2 linked regions of the Homo sapiens genome follow. The protein of the gene in region 2 binds, or shares a complex with, the protein of the main gene of each other region. Each region holds a gene or a part of one and is shown on either strand. Other genes may lie near its edges. A codon is read from its position in the direction of its gene.

Evidence for each region.
Region 1: the proteins of PDPN (region 2) and CLEC1B are in contact, whole or in part, in a crystal structure (PDB 3WSR), measured with the Homo sapiens proteins. Residues at the interface, in NP_006465.4 of Homo sapiens: Ala46 (codon at 657), Glu47 (codon at 654), Asp48 (codon at 651), Asp49 (codon at 648), Val50 (codon at 645); in NP_001380271.1 of Homo sapiens: Arg107, Phe116, Arg118, Arg152, Thr153, His154, Leu155, Arg157.

Annotation. Positions count from the first base shown.
Region 1 is NC_000012.12:9,992,413-9,996,260, forward strand, and holds the end of CLEC1B (C-type lectin domain family 1 member B), read right to left. Parts: intron 2,879-3,848; exon of another isoform or gene 2,835-2,878; coding exon 2,728-2,834; exon of another isoform or gene 2,613-2,727; coding exon of another isoform or gene 2,606-2,612; intron 876-2,605; coding exon 731-875; 3' UTR 663-730; downstream 1-662. UniProt on the Homo sapiens protein: C-type lectin-like receptor that functions as a platelet receptor for the lymphatic endothelial marker, PDPN.
Region 2 is NC_000001.11:13,600,597-13,607,897, reverse strand, and holds part of PDPN (podoplanin isoform a precursor), read right to left. Parts: intron 726-7,301; coding exon 592-725; intron 1-591. UniProt on the Homo sapiens protein: Mediates effects on cell migration and adhesion through its different partners.

The sequences.
Region 1 (3,848 bases), on a different chromosome or scaffold from region 2:
TTTTCTCATGAACTATCTTATACAAAGAGAAACAAATATCTCTCTGTTTTGTGAGCCAGGGTTTCGGGTTGGTGCTGGTAAGAGAATAGTGAATGGGGAAGTCATAGTGTTCGCTTTCATGGAGTTTCTGGTACAGTTAACACTCTAAAGTTCTATTTTAGGTTGTAGAACTGTGAGATATAAAAGATGGTTGTTATTATTCCTATTTTAAATATGAGAAAAGGGAAGTTAAAGAGGTTATGAAACTTGTTCATGATTGTAATTTAGTTAATTGACATCTAAATTATTTTGCTGATTCTAAGTTTAATATTCTTTTTACTATCTTACACCGCCTTTCAAACTTAGATATTTTGGACAGATTTCAAACATAGATATTTTGCACAACTTATATTAATTAAGCCCTAACCTATATTGGCCTGATTTTGATGTTATATGTGTATATCTGAAGATGCAGTAAATCATACCATGTTCAGGTAATTAGAAATGAAGGACAAGAAGAAAGAAAATTAAAGGAAAATAGAACAATTGGGAAGCAAATGATAAACTCACGTGATGGCTTCTGTATATTCAAAGAAGGGACTAGGTAATTCTGATAGGAAAGATAATATTAAAAATAACTCCAGTGAGAAGAAAGGGAGAAATAAGCAATTTTCAGCTACTGATGCATTCATACATATCTTTTATTGTACAATAAAGCCCTTATCTGTGTTATCCTGTCCACCTCTTTGCATTAAGGTAGTTGGTCCACCTTGGTCATGCCAGCCTTCCTCTCACACATTAAATAATGTTTGTTCTCACAGAAGGTAGGGTGCATTTTCCCATTATGAAAATAAGCACAATTCATATTTCCTTTTCCATCTTCCAAAAACTCAAACCTGTGAAGGGAAAGTTAGAATAAATTCCTTTGAAAACTGAGCAAACAATCAGTAATCAGACTCTGCGTATAGTAGTTTGATGCACCAAATAGAGACTGAGGAAAATAGGAAAAAAAAACAAAAAAAAAAACGATTCTCATTGTTGAGAAAGTTCCACCCTGCTTGGCAGTACAAGATATGCATATTTAAAAAGCCCAATATCAATTTCATTTAGCATAAAATTAGGAGCAAGGGAACAGTAGGTACAATAGGAGCCCTGAAGAAGTGATGGAGATGGCTCCAAAATAATGGGAAAACGCATTATCTACAAGATCAGACTTTAGTTCGGTATTGATGGAAGGTCAGGACTCAGATGAACTGACAGGAGATGGAAGAGCCCTACAGGACAAGTAGCTGCACTAGATGGGAATACGCTCATGGAAAAGTGAGTTGATTCAGTAGTTTTGAAATCAGGATTTATGTTGCAAGATAAATCATCTAACACAGCAGGCTGTATTGTAATTGTCTGTTAAGTTATATTTCTTTCTTTCTAAACTGCTTATAATGAGATGACAAGGAATATATACTTATTGGTTTATTTGGAGAATACCTGCAGAACTATGTGACAAAGTTGTTCTATGTGCTGAGGATACACTGATAAAGAAAGACAAGAAAGCTAATGTCTTTCTTGTTGGGGAACTTTCATTTAAGTGGGGCGATACCGGTAAGAAGCCCACAAAAAATAGACAAGAAAAATTGAGACAGTGGTAAGAGTTACAAAGAAACAAAACAGTGGTGGACTGTATGGATATGGGTTTAAGGGAGGCTAATTTAGTTTGGGTAGAGTTAGGTTCACTGAAGAAGTGATGTTTAAATAGAGACTTGAGTCTCAGTGGAGAGATGGTCATGGAGTTGTGGAGGCAGAGCATTCTAGAAGAAAATAGCAAGACAAAAGCCTTAAGGTAACAAAACGAGTTTGATTTGTTGGAAGAATGTAAAGAACACTAAGTTGCCTGCAATATTGTAAATGAGGCAGCAAGCAATAGGAGATAGGAGATAAAGCCCAAGGTCTGTGAAGAGGCTTGCTTGTAGTTGTAGTATCCTAAGATCCTATCTATAGTAAATACTTAATAAATATTTGTTTAAAAATTTAATTCATAATTTGAGTAATAATCAGATTATATAAGTTTTGGTTATCAGTTTAAATTTTAATTGAAGAGAGACTGCAGTTTTGATATACAGGATGAACAAAAGATGTTGAGACTGCAGATTGGAAAGCCATATAGGAAGCAACTCCACTCAATGCAATCAGTCCCTTTGCCTGGATTGTTTGTAGAAGGACAAAGCTTCGTTAATGGACATTGGAATTATCTTGTGAAATACAATGTATCGAATTCTTGGAGACTCCCAGAATAGAGGAATAGGCAAAACAATATTGAAAACTCAAAAGGACTCTCAAGATAACAACTTTCAACTGTAAAATAATGATATGAAATTTTGTTTTAAAAATATGTGAAGATAATCAGAACAAGCAAAACACAAAAACACACACACATGTGCATGCGCGCACACACACACACACACTCACACATACACATACATGCACACAGTGTTCCATGGTAAGGTTGAATGTAAAAATGAATGGGAATAATATCAGAGATAAAGGTGGATTGTGGCTTAGATAAAGAGCAAAGTAATGGGAGAGAGGGGAAAGAATTGTCTTATGACCAGCGCTGTCTTGTTTGAATTAGCAGGTAAGTGACCCAGCTGCTGCTTCTATAACCCATAGTAGTGACTTGGACTGAGAGAAGAGGGAATCTCAAGAATAAGAGTTTCCAGTACTCCCTCCTATTCTAAGTGTCCAGTGACTTACATATTTTCTGAGATAACCGAGCCATCCTCCCACTTCCAGACCTCATTCGACTTCTGGCGAGATAATCCGACCCAACGAATTAAATGAGTCCTGGCTTTGATGTACTCCTATTGTAAACATAAATAAACACAATGGTCAGAATCCCTCCACAGCTCTTGGTATGATAGACAAAGCTTCATGATAAGACGTTGGACAAAAAATGTTGGATTACATGTCTATATTAGTATTAATGGATTACATTTGATGTTTGAAATTGTACCAATTTGACTTGTCTGAGAACTTAAAAAAAACTTATAGGACACAGGTAAAATTGTACACAAAATAGCTGATATTCTAATCTTCTTTTGTGTTTATAACATGTATTTAGATCTTCAACCAGTTGAGGATTATACTCCCAAATAGAATACCAAATATGATTCAAAGGAATAAATGTAAACAGAGAAAGGAAATACAAAGAAATACATTGTTGATGAGCTGTATATTCCTTAGAGTTAAAGCCCTACCTGCTTTGGTTTTATTGCTCAGCTTGCCTATAAAATCTTACATATGGAAGTATTAACTTGTTGTAGTTAATTGGATAAAGGCATTTATGATGTCTTTCTCAAAAGGATTTATAAATAACGTACATCTACCTTTCCCTATTTACTTTCTTCTAATTAGCAATTATCACTATCTACTAAACTATATACTATATCATTTGCTTTGTTTCTTGGCTGTTGCTTTAACTAGAATATACTCTTGTCGAGGTTAAGCATTTTTCTTTCTGTCTTACTAACTGCATAGGTCCAAATTCTGGAATAGTTTCAGCACATAGTTGCTGAATTAATGAAGGAATAAGTGAATCAATCAATCTATGGGTAACAAAATTATGTGAAGGCCAAATGCTTATATATTCTGAGACCTCCCAGAATAACAAGTGATAATGCATTCTTGGTAAATAAAAAATGACTTGAGCTTCTTGACAGATATGTGAGACTCAAAATGGCATTCCACAGGAGATATTGTGTGAAAGTCACATGTGACTGTTTATTTCTTAAAGCTTGAGCCACCGGGAACCTTTCTGTTATATCCTAATATTTTCTTTAAAATATATCAATATTATATACTTCCCAATAGGAACT
Region 2 (7,301 bases):
CCTGACCTCAGGTGATCCACCTGCCTCAGCCTCCCAAAGTGCTGGGATTACAGGTGTGAGCCACCACGCCCGGCTGAGAAGATATATTTAGAACCCTTTATAGCAATGACATTGCCACAACACCCAAGAAAACTTTCATTGTATTGAAAGTTGGGCTGTAACAGATTGGAAATGTAAAATCCTGGCTCCTTTTACCAATTTGAGAAGCTCTGGCTTCTACTCTCCAACCACCTGTGATCAGCACACCAGCTAAGTGGACGAAATTGGGAAAGACAGTAACTCCTCACTTAACGTTGTTGATAGATTCTTGGAAACTGCGACTTTAAGGAAAATGACATGCAGCAGGTCCTCACATAATGTTGGTTCTTTCTAAGTCATTTTGCTTCAAGTCACAGTTTCCAAGAACCTATCAACAACATTAAGTGAGGACTTATTCTTCTTTGTTGAGCCACGTAACTATTCCTTGGTATGGTGGCTCATGCTGATTTTATAGATAGATATATTTTTATATAAAGTAAATTAATATACATCATAGCCTTGCATGTGATCACATGCCTACGGAAAAAATTCCTCTCTTCCCAGGACACTGACCAGAGTTGTCAAGCCAGACTTATAGCGGTCTTCGCTGGTTCCTGGAGTCACCACATCATCTTCGGCACCTGGCATGGCAACGCCGCCTTCCAAACCTGTAGTCTCAGTGTCATCTTCTGGCTGGCCTGTGCTGGCTGAAGAAGAAAGATTGAGTCAGAGCTTAAGGTGGAAATTGCATAAGCAGACCCAACTTGTCGGCTACATTCGGATTATTTTCTTTTCCATTTCTTTTGGAAATTTTTGTTTTATTTTTGGTCCTTTTTGTGGCTTACTGTGGTGCCAGAAACCAAACCATTCTCCTTGCAGCACTTCTGACACATCAACACCCTGGTTATCTCCGTTGCAAAGCAAAGGAAAATGAAAACATTAAAAGGTAGAGCAGCCAGCCCCTCCCTGGGGCCCCATCGAGGTGGCCTGGACAGGGGACGTACATCTTTCCTTTTCAATAAGGAACCAGATTCTTCCTGGTGTCATTTCATATGATGAATTAATATATTCATCTGGACCTAAAAACTCTAAATTAGAGTCAACAGGAAAGATTTCTAAACACACCCCTTTGCAGACCCGATGCAAAAGCGGGGTCTCCATCTTTTTATTTTTTTATTTTTTTCTCTACCTTTTCAAATTAATTTTTCTTAAGAGACAGGCTCTCCCTCTGTTGCTGAGGCTAGAGTACAGAGGCACAATCATAGCTCACTATAACCTCAAACTCCTGGGCTCAAGCGATCCTCCCGTCTCAGTCTCCAAAGTAGCGGGGACTACAAGTGCTCACCACCACACCCAACTTCCATCTTTTTAAAAGCAAACTCTCTCTCCATTTAATTTTAAGACTGCTGTTCACTTGGACAATTAGAACCACAGGCTCTGACCACAGACCTCGTAGATTACATGGAGTTTTACCTCTTACTTTACAGTTGAGATTACTGTCTACAGGGGAGGGTCAGTAATATGCTTAGGGATGCCAAGACACCAACAGAACACTTAGTACACCAAGAGCCAAACTAGCTGGGTGCAGTGGTTCACGCCTGTAATCCCAACACTTTGAGAGGCCAAGGTGGGTGGATCATTTGAGGTCAGGAATTTGAGGTCAGGAATTTGAGACCAGCCTGGCCAACACGGTGAAACTCTGTCTCTACTAAAAATACAAAAATTAGCCTGGTGTGGTGGTGGGCACCTATAATCCTAGCTACTCAGGAGGCTGAGGCAGGAAAATTGCTTGAATCCAGGAAGCAGGGGTTACAGTAAGCTGAGATCGCATCACTGCACTCCAGCCGAAACCCAATCTCCAAAAAAAAAAGAGCCAAACTAATGAACTGCCCTTGGCCCTGGCTTTTCCGCATTAACATTTGGACAAATGATGTGTCATGCCAATGAGAAAGGTTTCTGGGCCAGGTGTGGTGGCTCACGCCTGTAACCCCAGCACTTTAGGAGGCCAAGGCGGGCGGATCAGAAGGTCAAGAGATCGAGACCATCCTGGCCAACGTGGTGAAATCCCATCTCTACTAAAAATACAAAAATTAGCTGGGCATGGGGTTGCATGCCTGTAGTCCCAGCTACTTGGGAGGCTGAGGCAGGAGAATCGCTTGAACATGGGAGGTGGGGGTTGCAGTGAGCCAAGATCACACCACTGCACTCCAACCTGGTGACAGAGCAGGACTCCGTCTCAAAGAAAAAAAAAGGTTTCTGCTGGAGCAGGGAATTGGAGTGGACTACCAGGCTGAATTCTACAATGAGAGATAGAGCAGATAACAGCAGTATCCTCTTCTTCAACTTCTGTTGCAGTGACCCAAACTAGTCATGACCATGCTCAATTATCATCTCCAAAAATCACCAAACAACCCTCTTTGTGCATTAAAAATGTGACTCACTGGCCATGGGCTTCTTCCCTAAACTCCAGTGGTTCTGGAAATTCCATGACTAAATACAGTTGCAAAATAAACAAGCATACACATCCCAGGAGCGAGGGGGAGGGAGGTGCTTGGAAATTTCTTTGTGTAATGAAAGAGCAGATGTTTGTTTGTCTCTAGGCAGCACTTACATTAGCAATCCATTCCTTGCCTTAAGATACCTTATTCTCCCCACTGCTTAGACAGCACTTATATCAGCAATCCATTCCTTGCCTTAAGATACCTTATTCTCCCCACTGCTTAGACAGCCCAGCCAGAGGCACAGCTAATAAATATTTGATTATAGCTTCTTTGATGCCTAGAGGAAGCCTCTGAAGTTAGTTCACTTGTTCTATGAGCCTGCTCTTTTATTCTAGAGTCCTAATCCAGTAGAGATGGCTTTGGATGAGCTACCTACACATTTTTTTAATCTGGGGGTGTACAGCGAGGGGTTTACCAGTTAGCAATAACCGAATATTTCCATGCATGCAAATGGTTTGCCTCTCCATGTGGCCTTTTGCTGGAGTAGGGGTAGAGGTGAGGGTTGGTGATTGGCTCCTACAAAAATGTATGACTTGTGGTGTAGGCAAACGCTTACTGTGTATTTATTGAGCTCAATGGGAAATATCCCTTTGCCAGACAAGTAGTCCTTATTAAAAAACTTACTAAGCTTCCCATTTTATTTCTTCCTCACCTGGTTTGAACTTAGTTAACAAATCATCAATTTTAAAAACGTTTTCTGGAGCGGTTTAGTACAATCACTTACTTATTTGGTGTATCTAACTTAAAACAATCCTTGCTTTAAAAAAAAAAAATCAAGTGCTCAATGAAATTAGATTGAATTCTTTCATAGAAAGCTCAGTTCATTGAAAGCGTAACTTTATAAAAATTCCTTCTTGTTCTTTTCTACCCTTGGCCCACAGAGCCAAGTACTAAAATCGCTCTGAATGGACAAAAGGCGTTTTATGAATGATAGTCAGGATTAAGATGCATGTCTTTTGTCTCACCGCCCTAGCATTCTTTTTGCTCCATGGGAAAGCTGAACTTTAACAAGAGATCCCCAATTGTCCCTCTTAGTATCTTGGCTGAAGGATTCCCTGGGTGAAGAGTTCCTACTAGGCCAGCTGCCGAGTTTCCAGCCAGCATCTCATGTCTTTTCCCCTTCCTCCTGAAATTCAAATCATGGATGCCTTCACTTTCCAATCCTCTTTTCCCCAAGACATATGTATGCACAGGCATACATATGCACGCACACACGCATACACACACACATACAGGGATGCACATATGTGCAGACACACAATTGTTTCTACAAGTGTAGAGTGACGAATTTGCCATCATAAACCAATACCCACAACCTAGCTTGCAGGTTCAGTTCTGGAGTGGTGTACCAGCGTGCTCACATAAACACCCTTTCCTGCCACACCCAGCCTCAGCCAAACACGGCTCAGTGGAAGTTTCCAAATGCGGCAGCAAACGATCCACTTACTTTGAAATTTGTTGTTGTTGTGATTATTTTAAAAAAGCTAGGCAGGGCTGGGCGCGGTGGCTCACACCTATAATCCCAGCACTTTGGGAGGTGGAGGTGGGTGGATCACGAGGTCAGGAGTTCAAGACCAGCCTGGCCAAGATGGTGAAACCCCGTCTCTACTAAAAATACAAAAATTAGCCTGGCACAGTGGCAGGTGCCTGTAACCCCAACTACTCGGGAGGCTGAGGCAGGAGAATCACTTGAACTCGGGGGGCGGAGGTTGCAGGGAGCTGAGATCATGCCACTGCACTCCAGCCTGAGTGGCAAAGTGAGACTCTGTCTTAAAAAAAAAAAAAAAGCTAGGCTGAAGTTTCTATTTCCTAGGAGAAGATGATTTGATAAATCAACTGTCACTTGGGGTTCTTAATTTTTGAGAACAAATAAACGTAAGCAATGCTTATTTATATGAAATCACTAACTATGAATAACTTTTATCTTTGCATTCATGTCTAATAACTCGCTAGATTGCACACATTACAGGATGGCATTTCTTTTGTCTTTTCTTTGAGATGGAGTTTCACTCTTGTCACCCAGGCTGGAGTGCAATGGTACAATTTCGGCTCACTACAACCTCCGCCTCCTGGGTTCAAGCGATTCTCCTGTCTCAGCCTCCCAAGTAGCTGGGATTACAGGTGTGCACCACCACGCCCAGCTAATTTTTATATTTTTAGTAGAGATGGCATTTCACCATGTTGGCCAGGCTAGTCTCGAACTCCTGACCTCAGGTGATCCGCCTGCCTTGGCCTCCCAAAGTGGGCATTTCTTTTTTAAACAGAATTTCTTTCTTTCTATCTCTCTCTGTTTTTTTCTCTCTCTCTCCTTTGTATTTATAGAGATGACATCTCATTTTATTTTTATATATATATATATATTTGTAGAGACAAGGTCTCACTACATTGCCCAGGCTGCTCTTAAACTCCTGGGTTCAAGCAGTCCTCCCACCTCAGCCTTGCAAAGTGCTGGGATCACAGGCATGAGCCACTGTGCCCAGCCTGCCATTTCTTTAAAAATACTTTAGAGTTGGCCAGGCACGGTGGCTCACGCCTGTAATCCCAGCACTTTCGGAGGCTGAGACGGGTGGATCACCTGAGTCAGGAGTTCAAGATCAGCCTGGCCAACATGGTGAGACCCCGTCTCTACTGAAAATACAAAAAAAAAAATTAGCCAGGCATGGTGGTGCACACCTGTAATCCCAGCTACTGGGGAGGCTGAGGCGGGAGAATCACTTGAACCCAGGAGGCAGAGATTGCAGTGAGCCGAGACTGAACCATTGCACTCCAGCCTGGGAGACAAAAAAAAGAAGTACTTTTGAGTTTAGATGTAACATTCAATCAGGCTGTTATTGTAATAGTCCAAATTCTTAATAAAAATCTTTTAAATAAGTGATTTCAGTCTTCTGGTTTTATTTACACTTCTTTGATTTGTGGAGCGAGTTGTTTCATCCATTTGTCTTCTTTTGTGACCGTTTTTGTAATGGTCACATGGCATTCCCTCTTATAAGCACTGTTCATACCTTAAGAATGTATTCTTTGGCCTAAATGCTGCTGGCATTTTTTTTTTTTGAGACGGAGTCTTGCTCTGTCGCCCAGGCTGGAGTACAGTGGCACGATCTCGGCTCACGGCAAGCTCTGCCTCCTGGGCTCACGCCATTCTCCTGCCTCAGCCTCCCAAGTAGCTGGGACTACAGGTGCCCACCACCACACCCGGCTAATTTTTTTGTATTTTTTAGTAGAGACAGGGTTTCACCATGTTAGCCAGGATGGTCTCAATCTCCTGACCTTGTGATCCACCCGCCTCGGCCTCCCGAAGTGCTGAGCCACCCAAAGTGCTGAGCCACCCAAAGGCATGAGCCACCCAAAGGCATGAGCCACCCAAAGGCATGAGCCACCCAAAGGCATGAGCCACCCAAAGGCATGAGCCACCGCACCCGGCCTACATCTTTCTTTTGCAAATGACCAAGCTATCAGTAGTCAAACTTCTTAAACTTGTTTTCTCTTTGACATCACACTCACAAACTCTTCCTCAAGATCACATAAATATTCACCTATGTTTTCCTTATGGTATTGTACTTACGTTTAATATTTTTGTCTGTTTATTTTGAAGTATTATAATAAAAGAGAAATATAATTTCCCCCCAAAAGATTAGCCAATCACCCTGATAAATCCTCTTTTCCCCACTGCTTCAAAACCAGCTGTCATTGAGACAAATCTTTTCTTTCCAATACTATGTCATGGCTGGGTGCAGTGGCTCAGGCCTGTAATCCCAGCACTTTGGTAGGCCAAGGCAGGCAGATCACCTGAGGCCAGGAGTTTGAGACCATCCTGACCAACATGGCAAAATGCTGTCCCTACTAAAAATACAAAAATTAAGTAGGCAGGATAGCACATGCCTGCAGTCCCAGCTACTCAGGAGGCTGAGGCAGGAGAATCGTTTGAACCCAGGAGGCAGACGTTGCAGGGAGCCAAGATTGTGCCACTGCACTGCAGCCTGGGTGACAGAGCAAGACATGGTCCCAAAACAAACAAATACTATGTCACAGTTACAGGAGAAACTTAGCACAAGGCCCAGCTTAAGTGGCCTGGACACTGCCAACTATCCCCACTCCACATGGGCCCTCTGTCTGCAGAGTCTCCAGAAGCTGTTTCTAAATCCGTGCTCTCTTCACTGTAAGCTCCCTCTTCCTCCTCACATCAGCTGACAGCTGCTGAGTTAAATCAGTGACCAGGGAGTAGCTAGAATAAAACTCAGTGTTTAGGGCAAGGAGGAAAAGTAAGTATTCAAACAGGTGCATTTGGGGTCGTTCAAGATCTGGCACTGACGCAGCATTGTAAATTCCACTTAACGTGGAAGACACCTCATTGTCCTAACACCCTCTCACATTTGCTACTCACAATGTAGGGTTTACATGGCGTCTCCCAGCTGACTTTATTTCACAACAGCGCTGTGGTGGCTAGGCCCTTAGCCTGCCTTCACAAAGAATCTTGTTAGGCCAGTTTAGCAAGAGTCCCCCCAACCCCATCTCTTAGGAATTTTCCACCCACTGATCCCCTCATTCTGCTTGTGGGCTACAAATCCCCACTTTTCCTTTCACCCAGAGGTGAACCTGAGCTCTCCTCCCTACTGCAATGCCCCTTATTACAGGGGTCTTGACTAAAGTCTTCCGTACAATTTCAACAAGTGTCAGAATTAGTGTTTCTTTAACAAGGTCGGAAGTTAAGTGATGTGGCCCAACGCGGTGGCTCACGTCTATAATCCCAGCACTTTGGGAGGCCAAGGCAGGTGGATGACCTGA